Homo sapiens: one gene and its partners. The protein of the gene in region 1 interacts with the protein of each later gene in a pairwise test. Each region holds a gene or a part of one and is shown on either strand. Other genes may lie near its edges.

Evidence for each region.
Region 2: the proteins of SS18L1 (region 1) and NR1H3 interact in a two-hybrid assay, tested with the Homo sapiens proteins (one large-scale study listed by BioGRID and IntAct).
Region 3: the proteins of SS18L1 (region 1) and ELF5 interact in a two-hybrid assay, tested with the Homo sapiens proteins (one large-scale study listed by BioGRID and IntAct).
Region 4: the proteins of SS18L1 (region 1) and ANKRD22 interact in a two-hybrid assay, tested with the Homo sapiens proteins (one large-scale study listed by BioGRID and IntAct).
Region 5: the proteins of SS18L1 (region 1) and TCF7 interact in a two-hybrid assay, tested with the Homo sapiens proteins (one large-scale study listed by BioGRID and IntAct).

What each region holds. Positions count from the first base shown.
Region 1 is NC_000020.11:62,178,265-62,181,781, reverse strand, and holds part of SS18L1 (calcium-responsive transactivator), read right to left. Parts: intron 2,601-3,517; coding exon 2,574-2,600; 3' UTR 1-2,573. UniProt on the Homo sapiens protein: Transcriptional activator which is required for calcium-dependent dendritic growth and branching in cortical neurons. Recruits CREB-binding protein (CREBBP) to nuclear bodies.
Region 2 is NC_000011.10:47,256,568-47,260,808, reverse strand, and holds the start of NR1H3 (oxysterols receptor LXR-alpha), read right to left. Parts: upstream 2,814-4,241; 5' UTR 2,680-2,813; exon of another isoform or gene 1,630-2,679; 5' UTR 1,593-1,629; coding exon 1,550-1,592; intron 1,024-1,549; exon of another isoform or gene 1,019-1,023; coding exon 830-1,018; intron 401-829; coding exon 134-400; intron 1-133. UniProt on the Homo sapiens protein: Nuclear receptor that exhibits a ligand-dependent transcriptional activation activity.
Region 3 is NC_000011.10:34,507,283-34,510,799, reverse strand, and holds part of ELF5 (ETS-related transcription factor Elf-5), read left to right. Parts: intron 1-3,517. UniProt on the Homo sapiens protein: Transcriptionally activator that may play a role in regulating the later stages of keratinocytes terminal differentiation. Isoform 2 binds to DNA sequences containing the consensus nucleotide core sequence GGA[AT].
Region 4 is NC_000010.11:88,827,839-88,831,355, forward strand, and holds part of ANKRD22 (ankyrin repeat domain-containing protein 22), read right to left. Parts: intron 829-3,517; coding exon 721-828; intron 1-720.
Region 5 is NC_000005.10:134,142,170-134,145,686, forward strand, and holds part of TCF7 (transcription factor 7), read left to right. Parts: intron 1-15; coding exon 16-135; intron 136-551; coding exon 552-714; intron 715-823; coding exon 824-931; intron 932-1,422; coding exon 1,423-1,471; intron 1,472-2,627; coding exon of another isoform or gene 2,628-2,842; exon of another isoform or gene 2,843-3,517. UniProt on the Homo sapiens protein: Transcriptional activator involved in T-cell lymphocyte differentiation. Necessary for the survival of CD4(+) CD8(+) immature thymocytes. Isoforms lacking the N-terminal CTNNB1 binding domain cannot fulfill this role.

The DNA of each region.
Region 1 (3,517 bases):
ATTCATATGACAGAAGATAGAATAATGAAAAGGAACTGCTGGCATCACTTTCCCCATAATATTACATAAAAATGGACAGCACATTAAATAAACATTCTGTTATTAATCATTAAATATATTAACACCAAAAATCATGTATAAATTAGGAAATAAATGTACAAACTATTTTGCAAAGTGCTTTTTAAAATATATACACAACATTCAAGATATTCTTAATGTAAGACATTTCAGATTGAAGTTTTGGGGTAAGTGTCCTTTTCTTTCAGAAAGTATTATTAATACAGCACTTAAAAAAACACACAAACACACAAAAAAGGCATATTCCCAGATTGGCAAGGAATAAAAATAAACTATCTTCACAGTTATCTAAAATGTTTAACATTTTCAGTGGGAAATTTTAGTCCCCGATTGAGTTTGCAAATTAGGTCTATGAAAATTGACAGGAAAAGAACACAATCAAGGGAGATGACTCCCTAACTGAAATTGCTAACGCGTTTGTCAATTAGCAATTAAGAACTCTCATTTCGGTGATCGAATATGAACACATACGTTTATTTTTGAGCCCTTACCAGTGTTAAGGGTTTTAGAAACCCTTAGTGCCTACAAAATAAACACTTCTCTCCCCATTTGTGCGTGACATCCGTCTCCTAGGAGAGGGGAGAATGTCCTAGAACAGGACTGGTATTCAACACAGGCAAGTCCTTTAATCTGTGCCTCAGTTCTTCATCTCTAAAATGGGAACTGTTACCTGCCTCCAGATTTCCTCATAGGGGCTGTCAGAATTAATTCAAGCAAAACACATAAGTGACTTATAAATTCTAAAGCACCCGACTCTGGATAAAGAATTAATTTTAACTTATTTATTTATTTATTTATTTATTTTTTTGAGACGGAATTTCACTCTTGTTGCCTAGGCTCGGGTGCAATGGTGCGATCTTGCCCCACCACAACCTCTGTCTCCTGGGTTCAAGCCATTCTCCTGCCTCAGGTTCCCGAGTAGCTGGGATTACAGGTATGCACCACCATACCTGGCTAATTTTGTATTTTTAGTAGGGACGGGGTTTCTCCATGTTGGTCAGGCTGGTCTCGAACTCCCGACCTCAGGTGATCCGCCCGCTTCGGCCTCCCAAAGTGCTGGGATTACAGGCGTGAACCACCACGCCAAGAATTACTTTTAACTTTTAAAACAAAACATCAATTAAAGAGAAATATCGTTATTACTAGGCCTCATATATCAAGCATTGGATATCTCTTGTATTTTCTTGGTAGTTCTTGGAAATCTGTCAGCATTTATCCAAAGATTTTTTTAAAAGGATTCATAGCAAATATGAATATTATTATTCCAACTAAAGGTTGATCAAATGTCCATGCTACTTGTTAATTGAAATGTGGGATTTTTTTCCTTTGACCATACTTTTGCAAGTGTGCTGTCTTTAATGTTCACACAGAATTTAAATGGGATTTAATGTCTTAGAAATGTAAAAATTACTCAAGTTTCTCTATATAAAACCTTTACTTTTCATTAGAAAGAACACAGTAATGTAACTGGATGTGACTTTCAGACATCCCTAAAAGAAAAGAAATGCTTGCTTGGAGATCTGAGCAAGTAGGTCCTGGAAGAAATAATATAAAATAAACAACTTGCCAACTGTTGGGAAGATTTGGTTTGAATATTTAAAATTACCTATCAACTTAGAATTGGGCTTATTAAATATTCCAATCCCAGAAATGACCATCAGCTAAACAAGGGTCAAAGCCAGAGTAATCTCTGAGGGCCCACTTCCCAGAGAGCTGCCCCTTTCCTTCAGCAATACCGCTGGCCCTGGGTTAGGCAATTTGTCCACGGCCCTTAGGGATTCATATTTATTTGGAATACAGTCACTGATCCCTGTTTACTTTTTAATACAAAAACATGTACCTTTTTGGATAAACGGAATTGGCGAGAGACAGGCAATGGGCAAGCTCTGGAAGTGGCCATCTGTGGCCTCTCCCGTGGGAGATGTTTATCCTTTTCGTTACGTAACAGAAACTGACCCAACGCACAGAAGATGCCCTCCCACCCACCCCATCGAGGCACAGGAAGAGGCTGCCCTCCAGGGGCTGCATGTGTGTCCAGCTGTGGCGTAGCCAGTTAAAGAAAAGTTGACAACCCACACTACAACACTGCATGAGGAGGAAAATGAGACCTAACGTCTGTTGACGGGAACAGGTGGACTGTGGTGTCCTCGAGATCTGTCCTGTCCCTGGGCACAGAATGCTCTGATGACAAAATGACCCCCAAAGCTAGCTAGAAACATTGAGAAGGGGGCGGGGGACAAAAAAAGGATACCTCTCCGTGTACCGACATACAATACTATACACAGCACCAAAAGTATCACACCACCAAGCGCTGTCTCACGCCAGTGGTGTGCGCTCGGCGTCATACCCAGCATGAAATGAGCACGCTTCACATGCAGACGTGGCACTGGGCGAACAGGTAACCAACATGTCACAATTCACCAGAGCTGCCGCCAGCCCATCCGGCCCCTGGATGAACACGCTACCACAAGGGCTCCAGCCAGAATGTGTGTCCCTTACTGCTGGTAATTTCCATACTGGCCCTAAAAGAGATCAAGACACAGATTACACCCCTATAGTAATGAGTGAAAGGAAGACAGACGTCCACCCCAGCCCGGACAGGGGGTAGGAGGGACAACAGCAAGCAAACAACCTCTGCTCACATCTCTGCGGGGCAGCGAACGACTTTCCAGAAGCCACTGGCCAAGCCTGGGGCTAACAACGTAGACAGGGCCAAAGGTTCATTTGTTCAGTCACACACTGGCATCGCTGCGGCCGGGCCTGTGCCAGGCCTGGCATCAGAGCCTTATGCTGGGCCTGCTATGCAGGAAGGCTCTCCTCCAAGCTGGCCCCACTGGGAGCCAATGCAAACACCATCTGCCCCCGAGCCTGCTACAGTAAGAAAATGGGAGCGGGGACGACCAGGGTGATGGGTTTCAATCTATAAAAAAAAATCTAAAGACCCAGGCTGGGCAACATGGCCAGACTCCATCTCTACAAAAATCCAAATATTAGCTGGGTGTGGTGGCGTGTGCCAATAGTCCCAGATACTTGGAGGGTGAGGTGGGAGGATCGCTTGAGCCCAGGAGGTCAAGGCTGCAGTGAGCCGTGATTGCACCACTGCACTCTAGTCTGGGTGAGACCCTGTTTCAAAAACAAATCTGAATTTGGGAGGCCGAGGCAGGAGGACTGCTTGAGCCCAGGAGTTTGAGACCAGCCTGGGCAGTACAGCAAGACCCCATCTCTACAAAAAAAGAGAAAAAATTAGCCTCGGCCAGGCACAGTGGCTCACGCCTGCAATCCCAGCACTTTGGGAGGCCGAGGTGGGTGGATCATTTGAGGTCAGGAGTTCAAGACCAGCCTGGCCAACATGGTGAAACCCCATCTCTACTAAAAATACAAAAAAAAAAATTAGCCAGGTGGTAGTGGCACGTGCCTGTAATCCCAGCTACTTGGGAGG
Region 2 (4,241 bases), on another chromosome or scaffold:
CCGGTCAAGAAAGATACTGGGATCCATACTTAGGGATCAGTTAGCCCCTGCAAGTTCAGGCACCTGTTTTGGGTCACACCCTGGCCCCCTCTTTCCCCTCAGCCTCTTCCCCACTCCAGCCCCAGAAACTCACACTCCTCCCGCATGCCAGCCTGACGGCATTTGCGAAGCCGACACTCCTGGCACTTGCGACGCATGTAGGTGTCCATGGGGCAGTGGCCGCCACTGTGGCAGATGTAGTGCGCTCCCTTGATGACGCTGCGGCGGAAGAATCCCTTGCAGCCCTCGCAGCTCAGAACATTGTAGTGGAAGCCCGAGGCCTTGTCCCCACACACGCTGCATAGCTCGTTCCCCAGCATTTTGGGGGCTGGCCCCTTTTTCCGCTTTTGTGGACGGATCTCTGGATACAGGAAAGTGCTTCAACGCTCTCCCCCGAGGAAAAACATCATGTTCTCCCTGACTCAGCCACTGCCCTGGGCACTCAGTGACCTTCATTCCCTTCATTATACAAACTCCAGTCTCTCTTTTATGAGAAGAGTAGCCCTCATTTGCCAAGTGCCATTATGTTCTAGGTACTGTATGAGCCTTTTATATGCACTGATCCTTATGACAACCATAATTTTTATTTCCATTTTATAAACAAGGAAAGTGAGGCTCAGAAAGGCCTAGAGACAAAATTCACACTTAGATCAGTCAGATTTAGTTAGCTCTAAAGCCTCTGAACTTAACCATGAGATTATATATAAAGTAAAAACCCCCAAGGAACCTCTTCCAGATCCAGGACCTGGAATCTGGACCCCTACCTCCTCCAAACCCAGAAGCTCCTCACCTGTGGGTTCTGAAGGGGGCTCTGCCCTGGTGAGCAGGGCTGTGGGCTCTGCAGCCTCCAGCCCCACCCCTGCAGTACCCCCAGCAGAGTGGGGCATCCTGGCTTCCTCTCTGAGGATGCAGCTGCTGCCTCCCTGGGCCTGGCTGCTTGCATCCTGTGCGCCTGGCTTCCACAGCTCCACCGCAGAGTCTGAGCTCCAAAAGAGAGGCACAAGGGGGTCTCAGGCCCCATCCCGGCTCCACGGCCCAGCGTCCTAGCTGGGAAACTGCAAACTTATCCCCACCCTTAGAGGGCAGCAAAGTCCCAGCTCAGGCTTTGGGACCCTAGAGTCTGTGTGGGCTCTAGCTAGGACTAGTCACTTGTAGTTTCTTACATCTCAGGACCTTAAATGAAGATGTTAATCCTTGTCCCTTTGGGGGGCTGGAGTGTATGCATTTCAGAGATCAGATAAAACTCTTCAAAGCCAGAGCAGGGTAAGCACTCAGCTGGCCAACTCTCTAGCAGCAAATCCAGACTGGGGAGGACTGGGCGGGTGCCTGCAAGGGCCAGGCACTGGAACCAGGGGAGAGGTGATCTGGGCGGGAGGCAAGCACGACTAAGAATGACTCTGGACTGCTCTCTGGAGGAAGGAAGAAGGCAGGTAATGAAGGAGGCTGATTCCTACAGGAGGCGTGGAGCCTGCGGTCTGGGCTCAGGGGAGAGGGATGGAATGAAGCTTACCAGGAGGAATGTCAGGCACAGGGGCCCCCAGCCACAAGGACATCTCTTCCTGGAGCCCTGGTCATTACCAAGGCACTGTCCTGCAGGAAGGACCCAGATTATACTCTTCTAGAACTGGGCTCCTTTCTGGCCTCAGCTCCCTTCTCCACCTGATCCTCCCTTTTATCAATATCAACAATATCAGCTAACATTTACTTGCCATATATTAGCCTGTACTAAGGCTTTATTATATTACTATTATGTTTTTTAGAGACAGGTTCTCCCTATTTTGCCCAGGCTAGTCTAGGAATTCCTGGGCTCAAGTGATCCTCTCACCTGGGCCTCCCAAAGTGTGGGGATTATTGGAGTAAGCCACTGCGCCCAGCCTGTTATAAGGCTTTATGTGCTTTCCTCATAATATCCCTCTGAGGTCAAAACTATTAATTTTTTTTTTGAGATGGGGTCTCTCTATGTTGCCCAGGCTGGAACTCAGTGCTATTCACAGGTGCAATAATAGGACACTATCGCCTCAAACTACTGGGCTGAAGCAATCAGGTTTCAGCTTCCTGAGTATCTGAGATTATGGGCGCACGCTACTGCTCCTGGCTCAGGACTATTCTTAAACTCATTTTACAGATAAGCAAACTGAGGTTCAAAGAGATTAAGTAACTATGGTCACACAGTTAGGCGGCGGTAGAGTCAAGACTCCAACCCTCCTCTGACTCCAAAGTCTGGGCTCCCAGCCACCGTGCCGGCTTTTCTCCCCCAAAGTCCCCTCCAGGCCAGCAGGGAATGTTTGGGTGCATCTGCCCTGCTTCTCTTGGGCCCCTTCCCCCTCACTCCAACACTGAGGACAGCTCACTCCACCCAGTGAAACACGCTGCTTATTAGAGAACCTCGCTCGTGCCACTTTCCAGGGTCCCAGCACAAACCTGTCTCCAAGAATCTCCCCAATTCACATAGAGGACCTCCTCCCCTGAGCCCCTCATGAGTTATTCTGGGACCCAGAGTCCTGCTCCTGTCCCAAGCTTCCATCACCATCACCCCTCACTTCTCCCCAGAAACCCCCTTCTCAGATCCTTAGGACATTCCCCGACCCCACCCCAGATACACACACAGAGCCCCAGGCCACTGCTAAGGAGCAGACCCACCAAATCCCCAGGCCACCAGACTTCCTGGGTGGGCAGTCTCTGGAGCCCCCTTGCTGGGAGAAGAGGATGGTGCAGTTTCCTGTCCAGAAGTCTCGGTGGCCAGCCAGTGAGCTGGAGCTGAGCACAAGCAGGACCTGGAGCCCCAGAGAAGTAGCAATTTGGGGAAAGGCTGAGGGGAGGGACTGCCGAGGGGTCAGGCCACCCCTCCTTCCTGCCTGGTGACCACAGCCCTCCCCTCCTCACCCCCGCCCACAGGGCAGCTTCTCCACCAGGCTGGCTCCTCCCCAGCCGGCCACCCCCTCTCCCGCCACTCCCGCCCCCTACTCCCGGCCAAAACAGTGGCATTTCCCTGCAGACCAGCCAAGTTCCATGTCTCTCCCCTTCCTCTCCTTACCCAGCGCTCTTAGCAGCTCTTGCAAAAGGACTGCCTCCCAGGAACCCCCACCCCAATCCCAGCAGCCTCCAGAATCGTGTTCCCTCCCCTCCATAGGCACCTCGTGGAGCAAAGGTCCCAGCACGGCCCGGAATTGCGACACTGAGCCCCAGCGGCTTTCCCAGCCTCCCTCCTCCTCCCTTGCCTCTGGGAAGAGGCCAAGAAGCTCTCCCCACTAGCCCCAGGCCTCAGCCAAGCTGGTAGAAATCCAGGGGTGGAGAGAGGCAGGTGCTGGGCCTTCCAGGGAGTTTCTGAAAGTGGGTGCCCTGCGGGGGCCACAGATAAGAGAGGAGGCCAGGAGAGCCTTTGATAGGAAATCTGCTATGAGCAGTGGCAGGCCTGGGATAGGGGTGGAGGTGGCAGAAGGAAGACAGGCAACTCAGGTGGCAGCCCAGGATGGACCTGGGAAGGTATGCGGGTTGCCTCTTCTGGGGAACAACCCCATCTGAAGTGATGGCAGGCTCCAACCAGCAGCTACTGAGACTATAGTCATTCTTCCTACTCTGCTGCCTGGGGCATGAAATCCATCCCTGAAAGTAGACATCATATTTTATTGATTTCATCTCCCCCAACACCCCTGAAACAGGGCTGGCATAGATGTGGCAACAGAGTAGGTACTGTGTTCCTATTTGTTGAATGAATAACAAGAAAAATATAATATATTCTCGGCCGGGCGCGGTGGCTCACGCCTGTAATCCCAGCACTTTGGGAGGCCGAGGCAGGCGGATCACGAGGTCAGGAGATCGAGACCATCCTGGCTAACACGGTGAAACCCCGTCTCTCCTAAAAATACAAAAAATTAGCCGGGCATGGTGGCAGGCGCCTGTAGTTCCAGCTACTCGGGAGGCTGAGACAGAAGAATGGCGTGAACCCGGGAGGCAGAGCTTGCAGTGAGCCGAGATTGCGCCACTGCACTCCTGCCTGAGTGACAGAGCGAGACTCTGTCCCCAAAAAAAAAAAAAAAAGAAATATTATTCTCGTCTATCCCGTACTTATTAGCCCTAGTCAATTTTTTTTATTATTCCTTTTTTTTTTTTTTTTTACCTTTTTTGGGGTAGGGTCTCACTATGTTGCCCAGGCTGGCTTCACACTCCTGGGCTCAAGCCATCCTCCCACCTCAGCCTTCCAA
Region 3 (3,517 bases), on another chromosome or scaffold:
TCATTTTTTCTTAATCATCTCCCCACCAGAAATGTGAGTACCAGAGATAAACTATACATCTACTGTAGACCTTTGGAGCATGATAAAACACTGTAATTAATAACTCAGTTTTTTGATCCCCAAGAACTCATCTTTGTTCCCTAAAGAGGGGGGCAATATCACCCCCCTTGAGCAGGCCTGGCCTAACCTCAGGCCTGTGTTCACATATCCCTGGGCCTCAGTGTTACTTCTGAGAAAGGGGGCTCTGGACATCTGCCTTTTCACACCTATCCTGCTCTACCTCCACTAAAGAAGTCCTTAAGAGCTAAAATGTTCAATTATTGCAAGGACCTTAGAGGGCCTAGAGAAGAGAGGCTACTGAATACAAAGCAGCCATTATTCTTGAACTCTCACACCTACTGCATGCTGGCTAAGTAGCCAAGGTCTTTTGTGGAGAGCCCAGAGTTAATAACACCCACTCCTGCTGTAACAGGAAAAAAAAAAAAAAACACCTTTTTCTGCTTTTATAAAAGATATTTTTTCCAAAAGCAAGAAATAATTACAGAAGAAAAATAGCATGCTGTACACCTGAGAAGGCCCTTTACAAAAACTTAATGGATATAATTTGCCTTAGAAGGAATTACCAAAGGGAATCAGATACAGCATTGTGTATAGCACTAGAGAGATTACAGATCAAGTGAGTAGGCCGGTATAAAGAGGAGAAAGAATAACAATATTAAAAGAGGTAAAAATACTATTGATCAAAAAATATTTCTAGTTTTTATATAATGCCATTCAATTTACCAAATGACCTTTTTTTTTGTTAATACCCAATGACTTTTGAGAGCAATTAGTGAGGCATAGATGAGGAAGATCTCATTCCCACTGTCGTGTTTTGTATTTGATGGATTCCTTATTTGACACTGAAGACCTGGGGACTGTTTTCTGTTTTCTTCCGTGTGGAATTCACCTCTCCTTTCTCCCAACCCAAAGAAGGTCATATCACAGGCCTGCCATCCTCTTCTTTAGTTTTCTGAGCCTTCTGGCCCAGAAGAAAAGGGATATATTTGTCTTCAGCCCTCACTTAAAGGAACTTTTCTGAAGTCCAGTCCAGAAAGCAGAAGTGGCTTTCAGCTCCTGAGGCCCTTCCCTTCCTCATAACCTCTCACCCCATCCCTCAGCATCCTACCCCCTCCCTGCCCCCCTCACTCAGGATATAAAACCAGCCAATCCGTGGGAAAATCACAGCCCAAACCCAGGCAGCCTTGACATCTGTTTGATTGGGCTCCCAGGAGGAGATCCATGCCCACGATAATCTGCAGAGCACATTAACCCTCTCCAGGCATCAGCAAAGAGACTTCCCAGCAGAGTCTGGAAACTCTTGGGTGATGGCCCAGAAAAGGTGCCTAAGTGTCAGAATTCAAACTCGGTTATATATTTACATCTGGAGAGGAGTTCTCATGCACGTTTTTGTTGTTGTTGTTGTTGTTTTCGAGACAGAGTCTCACTCTGTCACCCAGGCTGGAGTGCAGTGGCACGATCTCAGCTCACTGCAACCTCTGCCTCCTGGGTTCGTGATTCTCATGCCTCAACCTCCTGAGTAGCTGGGATTACAGGTGTGCACCACCATGCCCAGCTAATTGTTGTGTTTTTAGTGGAGACGGGGTTTCGCCATGTTGTCCAGGCTGGTCTCGAACTCCTGACCTCAAGCGATCTGCCCACCTTGGCCTTCCAAAGTGCTGGGATTACAGGCATGAACCACCGCACCCGGCGTCTCATGCACATTTGATGGTGATGATGATGGTGGTTGGAGATTTTCAAGCATCTGCAAAGAATTGACCTTTGGTTTCAGAATCACACAATCCTGCCCCTCTTAGTACTGAGGTTTGATTTGCTATATAAGTGTGCCTTGGGGCTCAATTGTGTTTTCAGAAAGAGAAGCAGATGGGCTGAGAGTCAGAAAACTAAGGACCTCCCTGCCACTTAACTCTGGCATCCACTGGCTATGTGACCTTGAGCTAGTTACACAAATTCCCTGAGTCTCAACTTCCTCAACTGTAAAATGGTGGAGGCGAGGAGGGAAATTGGACTAACTCAGTATCTTCCAACACGTGGTACTCACATCAACTGGCAACATGCCAGATGAATCTGGTTAGGGGTTGCAAACTTTTTCTTAAAGGGCCAGGTATTTTAGGATTAGCAGGCCAAAAGGCAAAATCAAGGATATGATGTAAATATTTATATAACCACTTAAAATGTAACCACTTAAAAATGTAAAGTTTTTTTTATTTTTTATTTTTTATTTTTTATTTTTTTGTGAGACATAGTCTTGCTCTGTCGCCCAGGCTGGAGTGCAGTGGCACAATCTCGGTTCACTGCAACCTCTGCCTCCCAGGTTCAAGCGATTCTCCTGTCTCACTCTCCCGAGTAGCTGGGATTGCAGGCATGCACCAACACACCCAGCTAATGTTTGTATTTTTAGTAGAGACGGGGGTTTCACCATGTTGACCAGGCTGGTCTTGAACTCCTGACCTCAAGTGACCCACCCGCCTCGGCCTCCCAAAGTGCTGGGATTACAGGTGTAAACCACTGCGCCCAGCAGTAAAATTATTTTTAACTGCAGGCTTTACAAAAATAGGTGAGGGACTGCATTTTGCCTATAGGATGTAGTTTGCTAACCCCTGATTTAGGTGGCGCATGAACCATTTTTATTCAAATGCTTAAATATTTATTTTTATGTATGTTTAAAAAATCCTGACTTTCCATTTATATTGCTAATATAAAGTTTTCCTTTTAATTAGCATATTTATGTTAAAACAAAAAGGGAGTTGATGATTTTTTTAAGTATTTTAAGTAAATAATAGTGCTCGTAGTATATGGATTGAGTGAAATTATCACAGTCGTAGGCAAATGACTGAAGTTTAGGAAACACTGGACTAGATGAAGAATTCACTCCTGCCAATCTTAAAATTCCATGTGTTTAATATCCCAAGACACTTACCAGTGGTGTGATCTTGAGCAGCTATGTTCCCTTTGCAAAACGAGGAAAGAACTACTCTATGTCAACATTATTTCAAGAATCAGAAAAAAGAATTCGGGTGAACAGATTGTTTTAATCCACCAAACACAGATTATTATTTTTTCTGAATTGCGGGGAGATGGGATTCAGTAGAGAGTGGCATGTGGGAACATGGGAAGCAGCAAAGTTGAGACCAGCACAGGCAAGAATGTGTGCAAGCGGGGGCCCTAGGCCTGTTCTTTTCTGCCTTCCTTCCAGCCTCAACCACACACCCTGCCCCAGAGCTCCTTGCCGCCACCAAAGTGTGTGGGGACTGGAGCACAGCAATTAGAATGGGCTTTTTAAACAGACACACCTGAGCCACCACCCAGCTTCGCTGGCTTTGCATGTATTACCCGGAATCTCAGAGCCTCCATCCCTCACCTATGAAATGGAACTGCTGCCAGTACCTATCTCAGAGTGGTTGTTCTGAGCAGACCAGGAAGAATATAGCTAAAGTGCTAAAGTACTCAGCATGAA
Region 4 (3,517 bases), on another chromosome or scaffold:
ATGCATCTCTTGAGTCATGTCTGAGAAGTGGAACTGGGCACAAAGGAAACTAGATGGATAAAAGTGAGTAAGTCAGTGCAGATCTGTTACCCTATTGGGAAAAAAAACCAAAAACCATCTCAAGCTTCATCTTCTACTCCTCATATGACTGCATCTCTATACCAACTACATCTTTCTTTATTCAAGAAAATTGCTGTCTGCCAAGATTCATCCAAGCATGAAGAAATTCATCAAGGTGAAAATGGGCTTAAATTCTCAACAAGTATCTTCTGTGTGTGTCAGCTTCTGGATGCAAACTTTTAGGATCTGTTTTTCAACACACCACCAGAGGAGTACTTAAAAATCAGTAAGTCAGAAAGATAAATCCAAAAACACAAACTCCTCTTTTAAAAAAAGGAGAAAAAAATATTAGAAGGGGTGTTTTTTAATATTCAGAATTTTTTTGCTCCCTTCAGAAAAGTCTTAGTTAAGGTTAAATTATTTTTCTAAATCAACATTGCATGGATTATGTTACCATTGATTAACTATTTTTGCTAGCTTTCTTCTTGCTGTACTTCAATTATAGCATTGGATGTATGTTGAACATGTCAATTACAGAATACAAACCAAAGGCTTTTTTTGTTTTTATTTCTTTTCAACATCTCACTGGCCTGGCAAGAGTCAATGAGTCACACCATCGATCTCCACATTTGCCCTTTGCTCTACAAGTGTTGTACTCACCATGAGGAAATACCCAATAAGCAGAACAGGCATTAAGAGGATAATTAGTAGATAATCAATGAAGGTAAATTTTTTCTTCACAGCATAATGCAAGCAGGTTCTCTCTTTCTAAAAATTAAGAAAAGGATTCTTTACTAATAAAGCATTTCAATTCAAAATTTATTCAGATGGCCATCTCAAAAAGTTTAGTTTGTGCTTTTTGTTTTTCCGGTACCCATGGCATCTTTTCCTGTGGGATACATCTGATTACTGAATGCGGCTTTCCATGGAGCAGAACAGAGAACTCGGTCCAGTGTAAAGGAAAAGCTAGGGAAGGGCTCCTGGGAGTCAACAAAGGTGAAATGTACACAGCAGAGCTCATCAGAAGACAGATTCTTATACCCACTTAGTTTTTGGAAAAAAAGATACACTGAGATATAAACTTAGGACTGAATTTACTATGAAAATTGATAGTTATCCCTTAATCATCTACCATGTGTACGATTATCCATTTTGTGGTTTGTTCATAGGAAAACTCTTAACCACATGGCTGTTTTTCATGTTCCTTCATGTGCATAGTCTAGAAGAATGCATATAACTCAATTTTATTCTTCAAATATGTGAATACTTATCAGGTAATAGATGTCAGCTTCCAAGGGTTGTGGGAGATGTGAACTCTTAGGGCCTCATAATCAAAGATGGACAGAAATATGCACAAATAAATATAAGGCAAAACAGAAGGTGGTAATTGGAATACCAATCAAATCAGTAAGAGGAGAGGGAGCCCAAGAGAAAGAAAGGAGGTTAGTTTCCACTTATGCAAGGCACTGTACCTAAATAAGAACACTTTTTGTTTTTCTAATATGAAGGCATTTATATTTTCTGTAAAAAAATTTTAGAAACTAGAGAGGAACATAACGATAGAATTTTAAATTGCCCATTATTATATTAAATGGTCCAGAGTTAACTGTTGACATTTTGTTGTATTTTCTTCCAGTCTTCTTAAATGCATAAATGTGGAATTTTGAAATGTAGAATGATATTGCATATGCAATATCATATCTTGCTTTTTTCAGTTCAGAAACGTATATTTAGAATATGTACATTTTTCCATGCAATTCAATATTTTTAAACATATGATTGTAATGGCTGCATGGCTTAGTATTGAGTGGAACTACTCTGATGTATTTAGCTAAGCCCTGCCTTTTGAACATTTCATGGTTTTTGAGGGTTTTGTTTTTGTTTTTGTTTTTCTGTGAGACAGGATCTTGCTTTGCCACCTAGGCGGGAGTGCAGTGGCACAATCCTAGCTCACTGCAGCCTTGACTTCCTGGTCTCAAGCGATCCTTCAACTTCAGCCTCCAAAGTAGCTGGGACTACAAACATGTGCCACCACACCTGGATAATTTTTTACTTATTATTATTTTGTGTAGAGATGCGGGGGTCTTGCTATGTTGCCTAGGCAGGTCTTGAACTCCTGGTCTCAAACTATCCTTCCACCTTGGCCTCCCAAAATGCTGGGATTCCAGACATGAGCCACTGCACATGGCCCGTTTCAAGTTTTAAACTTTTCATTTTTATAAATAATATTGCCTGAACCTGCTCATTCATAAATTTTTGTCAACATTTCCAAATTTGTCCTTTGCCTACATTTCTAAAAATAGAATTCCTGGCATAAAAAGTATTAATGCTTTTCATATTGCGCTATCAAATTGTGTTCTAATAAGACAATAATAACTTAAACTTTCTGATCAACATTTGTTTTCTTTTTTAATCTTGGTCAGTTTGACAGACAAAAACAAGGATCTTTATGTTTTAATTTAATTTGCTATCAATAGAATCCATAGGCTTGTGCTTCTGAATCTCCAGCAGAGCTTTTTGTTTGTTTGTTTGTTTTTAAGGTGTTTGTTTGTTTAGTGTTTCTGGAAATAATTTATAAACAGATTTCAGACATGAGAAATCACAGGTTCAAATTATTAATGTACAAATATTAATATTTGGAGAAAATAAAAATATTAAATGCTAACATTAGAAACATTTGAAAGTGGAAAATGCAAACCAAAAACTTCTACTGATAAAATCTATTAATCTAATGTATCCACTAAAGTCTTTTTCATGGTTTTTATGATACCAGAAAATCCCAGCAGGCTGGCTGAGGCCCTCCTCTTCTGCAAAGCGGAGATAAAAGTGTCTCCTCAGCCTTGCCCATGGGCTAACGTCTCCTCCCTCAGTTTCCTAACGAGCGCACCTCTTAAAAGAGCGCAGGAACCCACAGACATCTGTCTTCTGGCACTACCACTCACTGCAACTCCACATATCTGGTTTCACAGCAGTGATCTACAGAGATCCTATTATAGTCCACGATGTTGCATATCTGTTCCATTCAGCACAGGCATGACTTGCTTTTAATCGCAACCAAACCAAAAATAGTAAGCATAAATAAAAAAGTCCAGTAATGATCAATTTTCTGATAATACATTGTTACTCCTGATGAGCTAGTCTCCAAATGACTTAGAAGGGGCAAGGGGGGATTTCCAGTGTTTTCTCGCCTTGAATGCATATAAGTGGGTACAGGACAGTCATAATGATTGCAAAAAAATGGCTTAATATTTATTCAGTGTAATTTAAATATTGCCTTCACTACGATGCAAATGCTAGATGTTCAGAAAGGGCTCCACAAGGATTTTCACAGCAATACACACATATTCTTCTCTTTCTTGGTCCTGAAGGCTCCAAAGTAGCTAATATTGCATCTTTAAATATATTCTTTACACCTTTTTGTGTGACTTCAAGTAACCTCTGGCTCATGAGCTTATTT
Region 5 (3,517 bases), on another chromosome or scaffold:
TCTTCCTGCCTCCAGGTTCACCCACCCATCCTTGATGCTAGGTTCTGGTGTACCTGGTCACCCAGCAGCCATCCCCCACCCGGCCATTGTGCCCCCCTCAGGGAAGCAGGAGCTGCAGCCCTTCGACCGCAACCTGTGAGTGAAAAGACAATGATGGCAGGGGGTGTGTCAGTCAGGATACACATGCCTCCCCACCAGGCCTGAGGACTGCCACGAGGTCCCTGCCTAAGCTGTTTCGTGCCTCTGGCTATGTTTTTGATCCTCAGAAGTAGGAGGGGGTGGGTGGGATGGGGAACAAGGATTTTTCTGAGCCAACAGAGGAGGGGCTCAGAAGTCCTTAACACATGCTTTTCCCACTTGTCTGTAGTGTTCCTATAAGGAACAGTTACTTAGCTGTCTGCTCACCCATTTGGGGGCAGCTAGGAAAGATTCCACTTAGAAAACTCTGGTATCATACACTTAGGCACACTCTAGGCCCACGCTAGAGGAGGAGGCTGCAATTAGGTGGGCACTCGGGGGGCTCCTGAACAATCTGGATTTGTGCCCCTCAGGAAGACACAAGCAGAGTCCAAGGCAGAGAAGGAGGCCAAGAAGCCAACCATCAAGAAGCCCCTCAATGCCTTCATGCTGTACATGAAGGAGATGAGAGCCAAGGTCATTGCAGAGTGCACACTTAAGGAGAGCGCTGCCATCAACCAGATCCTGGGCCGCAGGGTGAGACCATGGGCAGGTGGGCTGGCAGGGATGCTCCCCGACCATCTTCAGCCTGGTGCAGCCTGCTGACTCCCTGATGCACCCCACCTGCCCCTCTTCCCTGTTGCAGTGGCACGCGCTGTCGCGAGAAGAGCAGGCCAAGTACTATGAGCTGGCCCGCAAGGAGAGGCAGCTGCACATGCAGCTATACCCAGGCTGGTCAGCGCGGGACAACTACGTGAGTGCCTAGTGACACACAGCAGGGGTGGGCAGGGGACCCTTTGAGATACCATGCCCCAGGCCACAATCTCAGTAAGGAACGCAGAACTACTGTCCTGAAGGCACCGATGAGGAAGGGCACGGAGGGTCCAAGGCCTCCCATGGCTGCCTCAGAAGAGGACAAGCCCACATCCTATTCTCCACTCCAGAATATGCTCACACATGAGCTGTTACCCAACATTTGATTGGGCCACATGGGCAGAAGGGGAGAAAGGGGTCTGGAAGTCACCTCCTTCCATTCAAACTGGAGACCAGATTGGGGTGAGGGAAGAGCTTCTAAATGCACTCCATAGCAGCCTAGCAAGACCAGCAATCAAGAAACACCAGCACCCCAAGGTAGGAGGGGCCTGTACGCCCAGAATCCCAGGGTTACCCAAGCTAGGCAGCAGGCTGTGGGTATCCCAATGTCTGCCTCCCAGATCTGAGCATCCCTCCTTTTGTTCCCTGCAGGGGAAGAAGAAGAGGCGGTCGAGGGAAAAGCACCAAGAATCCACCACAGGTGAGACCTTCTCTCAGCAGCAGTGGAGGCTCCTCTCCATGTCCCCATTTCAAGAGCAGCCCTCCTCTGACCCAAAGGGAGGAACGCGGTACCCAGCTAGGAGCCTTCAGGGCCTGGGGCCTATGAAAACAAGGCCTGCATCTCACAAGTCAAATTCCCATGCAAGAAACAGCTATATTATACTAAGTCCCAGGGAAACCCAGCAGAACTGGCTTCTGCTGGGTAGAATTGGAGTAGATGGTGCGTTCCTCTGCCTTGCACCCACTACCTTTGCTAGCTCCACTCACCAGAGAAACCAGCAAAGAACTGACTGTATGGTTTGATGCTTAGCCCAAACAATGTCCTGGCTAGTTCTGCTGAGACTGGGAGAGGCTGAGCTAGGCCCCATGACTAGGCCCAGTAGACACACAGCCTACTGGCTGGAGCCTGGCAATTTATCACCCCCACTTCAACATTTTTCATGGCAGTGCAAAGTGCTCTATGTAGAGAAGCCCACACCCTGCTGCAGGCCTCCTTCCTAAGGGTGAATTCCTGCCTCTCTGGTAACTGAGACTCCACATCCCTGACCACCTCAGCCGTGCTGTCCCCACACAGGGAAGCTGGAGGCTAGGACTGGGACAGAGCAGGGCAGAGTTCCTAGCCCTTTTTCCAAGGCAAAGAATAGGCCCTTCCTTCCATCTGCAAGTGTGTAGAACAGCATAAGGTATAGCCTTCAGCCTTATCCCTTGAAGGAATGTAGGTCAAGAATGAAGAAAAACTGGATAAAATGGGTAGGGAGTTGGGGAGGAGGTGGGTGGCCCTAGGGCATAAAAGGCTGGATCTCCATGGTCTTCCTTGGGCCCCTCTGCAGCCTCCATGCTGCAAGGGCCCCACAAGCCACAGAGATGAGCCAGATTGACAGGACTCCCTCCCTCCCATTCTTCCCACTGCCTCTACTGCGTACCTGGGTGCCCACCTTTCCTGATATCTTGGCTCTGGGCTCTTGGGCTCCCACTGGGGCTGGCTGTGCCATGGAGAGGCCCACTCTGCCTATGGGGGCTGTAGGGTGTCTATAACTGGCTAACACTGATGTTACCTCTTCTTTCTGGGCCCTGCTCTGCCCCGCTGCCTGCTCGCCCTCTGCCCTGCTCTACCCCTCTGGCATGGCTGTGAGCAGACCCTGGCTCGCCTAAGAAATGCCGTGCTCGCTTTGGCCTCAACCAGCAGACGGATTGGTGTGGTCCGTGCAGGTGGGTTTGTCCCCACCATCGTTCTCCCTTTGCTTTAAGCTGCTTCCCTGACTCTGCACATGTTCCACTGGGCCTGCAGCCCACTCCTTTGGCCCCTCAGCCCACTAGCATACTCAGCAGATTGGGAGCCCAGGCCTCCTGAGAATAGTAGTAAATACTGAACACAGCGCGTGGAGAAGACCACTTGGGTCTAAGTGCAGGAGGATTGGAGAGAAAGACACAGAATGTTCCAGAAAGGAAGGACAGACTCAAGAAGGCAGCTCTGATGCCAGTGGGCCTAGCAGGTCCTCAGCAAACAGACAGCTCAGCCACCACTAAGGGGGCCTGGAGCCCATTCTACCAGGCCTCAAAGTCATTATGGCCCATGGGCTCCCTCACTTCCTCTTCAAGATGGGATCCCTGCCTGTACCATCCTGAGCCCTTAATCTGAAAAAGCAAGGTGACAACAACACAGAACCATCTGGTTGCCAGGTAGCCTTATGACTTGCTATCTTGTACCTACTGATACCAAAGGGCTGGAGAGGCTGGGGGAGAGGACCCAGGGGGTACCCTGGGCTGTCTGAGGGAAAGGGCTCATGTGTTTCACCATACAACAGAGAAATACTTGTGGGTGTGACAAGGTTTACCCAACAAGTGGTTAAAGTTTCCTCAGTCAGTTTCAGGCCAGGCCTGGCAGGGCTAAGATAGAGGGTACTCCAGGCAGTAAGGCCACTGGCTCTAAGGAACACTTGTCCAGCCTCTCAGTGTACCCACCACACTCCCTGTCCAAGGGCAAGGAGGAGTTTGGGGTGTGTCTGTGTATCCACATACATATGCA